Homo sapiens: one gene and its partner. The protein of the gene in region 2 interacts with the protein of the main gene of each other region in a biochemical or structural test. Each region holds a gene or a part of one and is shown on either strand. Other genes may lie near its edges.

Evidence for each region.
Region 1: the proteins of ATRNL1 (region 2) and PARD3B interact in a test that uses a peptide from one of them, tested with the Homo sapiens proteins (one large-scale study listed by IntAct).

The regions. Positions count from the first base shown.
Region 1 is NC_000002.12:204,543,922-204,547,670, reverse strand, and holds the start of PARD3B (partitioning defective 3 homolog B), read right to left. Parts: upstream 2,197-3,749; 5' UTR 1,672-2,196; coding exon 1,552-1,671; intron 1-1,551. UniProt on the Homo sapiens protein: Putative adapter protein involved in asymmetrical cell division and cell polarization processes. May play a role in the formation of epithelial tight junctions.
Region 2 is NC_000010.11:115,096,355-115,100,003, forward strand, and holds part of ATRNL1 (attractin-like protein 1 isoform 1 precursor), read left to right. Parts: intron 1-290; exon of another isoform or gene 291-485; intron 486-3,649. UniProt on the Homo sapiens protein: May play a role in melanocortin signaling pathways that regulate energy homeostasis.

The DNA.
Region 1 (3,749 bases), on a different chromosome or scaffold from region 2:
CCTCAATGAGATCTATTTCAATAATCTGTCTGGAGTAATGTTGTTACTATTAATCTTAGCTCACTTTCAAAAGTTAGTGAAATATGATTTAATAGACAATTGGTTACTTGTTTAAACATCAGTTAACTGAATTACATGATTTAAACAGCAAACACTATTTTAACAATGGCAAACACATATGCACGTGCACACACACACATAACATTGCAGTTGATTTTCACACAGCTTTATAAACCACTTTAATTTTTTCCCTCCTCCACCTCAATTCCATCAGTAAAGAGTTCATCTTTAGGGGTTATATTTAATATATTAATAGACCTTTCATTGTACTCTCCTCCAGTTCTTGAGTATCCAAAGCAATATGCACATGTATCTGTCCAGAGCTGAATTTTTTTTCTGTATAATAATTCTTCATGGAGGCAAAGAAGGTGCAAGTATTTTCTTAAACCCCTAAGCTATACACTTGTAAGAAACAATTACTTTTATGCTTTGGATAACCGATAAGAAGTTAAAAGAAATTAAAACTTACGTTTTTCCATCACTAGATTGACCAACCCACTATTTTAGTCACATGGCACGAGACCAAATATTAAGAGAACCATTGGCCGCTAAAACAAGAATTTGTGACTTGCCCTGTTTGAGGAGCATTTGGGACATACAAAATGTTCCATGTGAAGATTCAAAAAATTAAAAGGTTATTCAATGCCTTCCTTTAAAAGTTTCACTGAGGAAGTCCCAGAGGCCCAATGTTACCCAAATACTTGGCATAAGTTCTAGTGCCAGATATTTTCTCAACATGTATTGCACACTTAAAAAAAATTGTCACTTAATTTATACTTGTTCCTGACTTCAGCTACAGAGCTAGGAACGTCTTTCTCATTTTAATAGTCACTCAGGACCTGACAACAGCCCACACACATAGTAAATGGTCATAGAATCTGTGACATTAAACTGAAAACACTCAAAATGTAGACAGGTTGGCTAAGCAAACAGCATGCTCCCACCTGTGTTCCTGCCCAAGTCACTGAGACAGGGCAGCTCACAAGGCTGAAACTCCAAAGGCCCCATCAGTTGTAACTTCCGAGTATGTGTCACTTGCACAATCAACTTTCTAACTCCAAGGAGCCTAAGTGAGGCGGGCCTTAATGGGTCAAAAATCACACTTAGGTGAGCAGCACCTTTTAAGACGTTCCCTCAAACAAGTTCTAAACCAGTGGTTCTCAAACTTCAGTGGGCATTCCAATCACCTGGGGATCTCGTTAAAGAGCAGATCCTGAGTCGGTGGGTTTGGAGAACTGCCCATATTGGGCAGTTCTAAGAAGCTCCCAAGAGATTCCAATGCTGCAGGTCCACTCACGACCCTCGGAGCTCAAGGCCCACAAACACCCAAAGACACCCACATCACTGATATTAGCAATAGACAACAGCTGCAGCTACAGGCAGTGCCCCATAATCCCCTGGGTTTTCTGCATCCCCTGAGTGTCGCCACCGGGTCGCACCTGGCAGGTGCCTTGGCTGCAGCCGCGCCCCACTCCTCCGCGCCGCGCTCACCTTCTCCCGGGTCTTCAGGTACCGCTGCAGCGCCTGCTGGGTGAGCTCGCCGACGCGCAGCTGGCCCTCCTTGCAGGGCACCACGATGCCCGTCCTGCCGAAGCACACGGTCACTTTCATCCTGGCCCCCGGCGACCACGCCGGGCCGGGCCGAACAGGTGTCTGACCCCGCGGGCGCAGCCCCCACTCTCGGAGGACGCCCGGGGCGGGTGGGCCCAGAGACCCGGGGCGCCGCTCCCCGGAACACCCTGAGGCCCGGAGGCTCGCGGCAGCGCCCCTTCCACCTGGCCAGGCGGCAGGTGGCGGGAATCGGGGAGGGGCGGCCGCGGAAAGGGGTTACCTCCCAGGTGCCCGGCGGCCCGGGACGCGGCAGCTCCGCGGCACCGGCTCCTCCTCCTCCTCCTCCCGCTCCTACTCCTGCCCGGCCCAGGCGGCTGCTCCGCGCCCACCAAAGCGAAACTGCCGGCCCTGCCCTGTCGCTGGTCCTGGCCCTGGCCCTGGCCCTGGCGGCGTTGGCAGGGCCGGCCCCAAGCCGGGGGCTGGAGTGGGCGGCGGCGGCGGCGGCGCACGGGGCCAGAGTTGGGAGGAAACTTTTGCGCCGGCTCCCAACTCCTCTGCGGCGCCCGCGCTCTGGGCTCCTGCGGTCCCGGCGACGGCCTGGGCCCGGCTCTTAAAGGGGCCGCGGCGCTCCCGGGCCCCGCCGCACGCTGGGCGACGACGTGCCCCGGCCCTGCGGGCCAGTAACTGGAGCCCGGGAGCCTCGTCTCGTCACCTGGGTCTCTCCCTGGCTCTCTCCCTCTCGCACGCATGCACACGGAGCTCTGGGGAGTTGTAAGGGGACCTGAGGGCTACACGCTCGAGGATTGAAACCGGATCTCAGAAAGAACACCCGAGGGAAGAGCGAGGAGACTGCAGAGCTGCGCCCTTCACAGGAGGGGACTGCAGCAAGATGCAAAAGGAGCCCAGGAGCAGGTGCTTCTAGTCACGCCCACCAAAAACACCCAAGGGGCGAGGCTGCCGGGTGCGGAGATGCAGGAGTGCCCCGAGGGCCTGTTAGGAACTCGCCTTAAGCACAGCCCGTGCCGCTGCCATCAGGAGCCCTGGGATAGCAGAGCTGAAGCGAACCTTGGAGAGAACGCGCCAGTGGAAACTTTTCCTTTTACAGACCCTCGAGGACACTGAGTATTTGGCCAAAGGTCACACCCAAGACCCAGATATGATCGCGTGTGTTGACACATAGCCTTCTGGAATGCGACTACCGTTGTGCATTTTATTAGGAAAAAAAAAAGTTAACACCCTTAGGCTCATGATTTGGCAGGTGTGTATCCATCACCAATTGAAATGGGAATATGTGGGGGAAACCAACAAATTACGTTAGTTTCATTCTTAGCTCTCATGTAAATGAGCTCCTTTGAGCTTAACAACTACCCGGTAGGTAGATATTATTCTTCGCATCTTGTGCATCAAGAATGGTGCTCGGAGAGGTCAAGAGACTGAGCAGACCATGGTGTTAGTTCTGTTGAAAAGAACTCAGGTCTTCTGAGCTCAATCTCTGGTCTCTCCCTGCAGTTTTCTTAGCCATCCAGTTCATCCAGCAAGACCCTCAGGGCTGCATCATGTGTTTCTCTACAGAAGGATGTGCTCCTATGTGGACACACTTAAATTGAACGTGAATTGCCTAGGATGGTATGATAATGCAGAGGAGATTAAATTCATGGGTTTCAAGAGGTTTTTTAAAAAAATAAATTTTAGCTCATTCATACATTCAGTAAGTATATATTGGTTGTCTTCTATGTATAGAAAGTCAGTGGCAAACCAAGAGGATCACGTAAACCAAGTCCATTGTAATTTGGTTGTAAATCCAATACAAACTAATTTACATTTAAATAAACCAAAGACAGAATTGATCACCTCATAAAATCAGAAGATCCAGAGGGCACTCCATTGAGGCAAGGTTGAAAGCAGGAACTCAAACTATGTCCTCAGGGGCCAGCTAGCTCTGTCCAGCTCTTAGCTCTATCTGTTCCTCAGTGTGGTCTCCATTCTCAGGCCAGCTCTCTTCAAAGGAGACACTTTATCCTCTTTTTAGAGATGAGGAGCTGAGGCCAAAGGAAGTTAAATGATTTAGTTAAAATCTCATTCTTAGAAAGTAGCAGAGGCTGGCTTAAAACCCAGGTCATCTGATTCCAGAGTCTTCA
Region 2 (3,649 bases):
GGATTATGTATAGTAGAAAAGAATTCTTCTTGGTAAAGTACATGCAAATAAACCTATGAAAGGTTTATTTGAAGATAGTAGCTTGTTTTACCTGGCATTTGAAGTAATAACACAGTGGGAAAGGCTTTAACTAGAAAATCTCACTTCACTAACTATCTTGAAAATCTTTTTCTAAACTGAAGGATAGCAACCTTACAAACAGACATTAAAAATGATTGATCAATCTTGGTAAGCAGGTGTCAAAATTAATTGGTTGGCTCCATGGTAACTTAGCTTTTTTTCTACTATAGGGATTTCGCCAGGGAATAAAAATGTTCTTCAAATGTTTCTTGAGGATAGAAGATTGATAGTTGGGGGAAGAAATGCAGAAGCAAATATAGTATCAAAAGTGGTACTTCAGTTCTCTTAGCATTGATTCCAGTCTTCTGTTTCCATTTGAAAAGAATAAAGCACTCAGAATAACAAGCCATTCCTTCCTTACACAGGTAAAACAAAAGGAACATTGATTTTTCACCCAAAGCTAGACTAAAGGACTTGGGATTGAGAATAGGAAAATATATTTGAAATATAATAATCAAAGATACAGACTCTAATTCAAGTTGTATTTATTTGAATAGTTCAGTGTAATGTTAAGCAAGAAAATATTCTGCTATAATCTATTTGAATGACGTTCTCTTTTAGAAGGGAGCCCTTGAGAATTAATTTTGTAGAGTAGAGATTTATATAAATTTATATAAATATAAAGAGTATTGCTCTTTATATTAGTCAAATATAAAGGGGTATATTTTTACCCCTCTTAGGTTAGTCAAATTTGGATACTTCATTTCACGCATTTAAAATGGAAGTATGCTGGGTGCCGTGGCTCAGGCCTGTAATCCCAGCACTTTGGGAGGCCGAGGTGGAAGGATCCCTTGAGCCCAGAAGTTTGAGACCAGTCTGGGCAAGATAGTGAGACCTCATCTCTACAAAAAATATTTTAAAAGTAGCTGGGCATGGTGGCACACACCTGTGGTCACAGCTACAAGAGAGAGTGAGGCGGAAGAATTCCTTGAGCTCAGGAGGTTGAGGCTGCAGTGAGCTGTAATCACGCCACTGCGCTCCAGCTTGGGTATCAGAGCGAGACTCTTCTTAAAAATTTATATATACATATATGAAGCATTCTATTTGTAGTGACAGCAAAATGAAGATGTAATGATATAATGTCAGGAATTAGGTTGTTATTATAGACAAAAACGGGCAGAATAAAGTGTGTAAACTCTTCCCCTAAGCTGTTAAAAATATATGCATATTGCCTGGCTTGGTGTCTCACGCCTGTAATCCCAACTCTTTGGGAGACCGAGGCGGGCGGATCATGAGGTCAGGAGATCGAGACCATCCTAGCTAACACAGTGAAACCCCGTCTCTACTAAAAATACAAAAATTAGCTGGGTGTGATGGCACGCACCTGTAGTCCCAGTTACTCAGGAGGCTGAGGCAGGAGAATCGCTTGAACCCAGGAGGCGGAGGTTGCAGTGAGCATAGGTCGCGCAACTGCACTCCAGCCTGGGCAACAGAGCGAGACTCCGTCTCAAAACAAAACAAAAATAAACAACAACAACAAAAAACAAATATATATATATGCATATGTAAATACATATATATTTGGAATCCTTTTTACTTGTAAGGAAACTGACAGTAATTATAAACTTAAACTGAATGTTCCCTGTCCCTAAGACTTCTTTATTTCAAAGTTTTATTTTAATGGATAATTTATATCCATGGATTATTTTTACATTATTAAAGTGTATAATCACACAGTAGGAATTTAAAATAATTTAAATTGAGTGTTTCTTAGATTCTAAATTGATAAGGTAAGTTACTTGTAGAAGCATAGTAGCATGGTTTTCAAGAACACGTGTCTGCATGATTTGGCCCCTTTAGCTGATTAGACTCAGGCCTCCTTTCCTCTGCCCTGACTGGCCTTTTGAAGTTCCTTGAAAGTGTCACATTCCTTTTGGCCTTAGTGCATTTTATACACGTAACTGTGAACTCTTTCCTCTCTGGTCTTTGCTTGGGTGATTACTGATCATCCTTCTAATCTTAGCTTAAATACTAGTTTCTTTTTTTTTTTTTTTTTTTTTTTTTTGAGACCGAGTCTGGCTCTGTCACCCAGGCTGGAGTGCAGTGGCGCAATCTCGGCTCACTGCAAGCTCCGCTTCCTGGGTTCACGCCATTCTCCTGCTTCAGCCTCCCGAGTAGCTGGGACTACAGGCGCCCGCCACTACGCCCGGCTAATTTTTTGTTTAGTAGAGACGGGGTATCACCGTGTTAGCCAGGATGGTCTCGATCTCCTGACCTCGTGATCCACCCGCCTCGGCCTCCTAAAGTGCTGGGATTACAGGCGTGAGCCACTGCGCCTGGCCACTTAAATACTAGTTTCTAAAGGAGGCTTGTCTGACTCTTCACACTAGGTTACCCCTTATATACTGCCCTAATAGCACTATTTTTCCTTCTTAGTATTGTCAAAAATGAGGTGTTTAATTATAATTTTGATAGTTATTTAAACAAAATTTTTAAGAGATTGAGGTATAATTGTCAAACAGCACAATTTAAAATGTACAATTTATTTAAATTATACAATTTGATAAGTTTTGTCATATGTATTTGCATCTGAAACTGTCACCACAATCAAAATCATAAAAATACCAATCACGCTAGAAAGTTTCCATGTGTTTCCTTTGTAAACCCTCCCTTTTCTAGTTGCCAATTCCTGTCCCAGGGCAACTATTGATCTGCTTTCTCTCACTATAGATTTGTTGGTATTTTCTAGAACTTTTTGTAAATAGAATCATACATTATATACTTCTTTTTTGTCTGGCTTCTTTCACACAGCGTGTTTATTTTGAGATTCATTCATGGTGTGTTAGTAGTTTATTCTACTGCCGAATAGTGTTCCAGTGTCTGGATACACCATAATTTGTTTATCCATTCAACTGCTGATGGACATTTGGATTGTTTCAAATTTTTGGCTGTTCCTTATAAAGCTGCTACGAAGTTTCATGTGGAAGCCTTTTTATCTTTGTATGGTCATATGCTTTCCTTTCTCTTGGGGAAATAACCTGAGAATGGCTGGATCATATGGGTAGATATATGTGTAACTGTTAAAGAAACCGACAAACTGTTTTCCAAAGTAGTTGTATCATTTATGTTCCCACCAGCAGTGAGTCAGTGTTCTATCTAGTTAATTTCACATCCATACCAATACTTGGTATGGTTAGTCTTTTAAATTTTTGTGATTCTAATAAGTGAATGGTATATTATTGGGTTTTAGTTTGCATTTCCCGAATTACTAATGATATTGAGTATCTTCTCATGTGCTTACTTGCCATCCGTATATCTTCTGTAATAGGCATTTATTCAAACCTTTTGCATGTTAAAAAAATTTTCTTACTGATTTTTGTGAGTTCTTTACATTTTCTGGATTACTAGCTTCTTATGAGGTATATCATTTGCATATATTTTCTACCAGTCTGCGGCTTGTCTATGAAAACAATGCAAAGAGAATGAAATCTCTTGACAGTATTTTTCAAAGAATCTAAGTTTTAAATTGATTAATTCCAGTTTATCATTTTTTTCTTTTATACTTTTCATGTTGTGCCTAAGAAAAGTT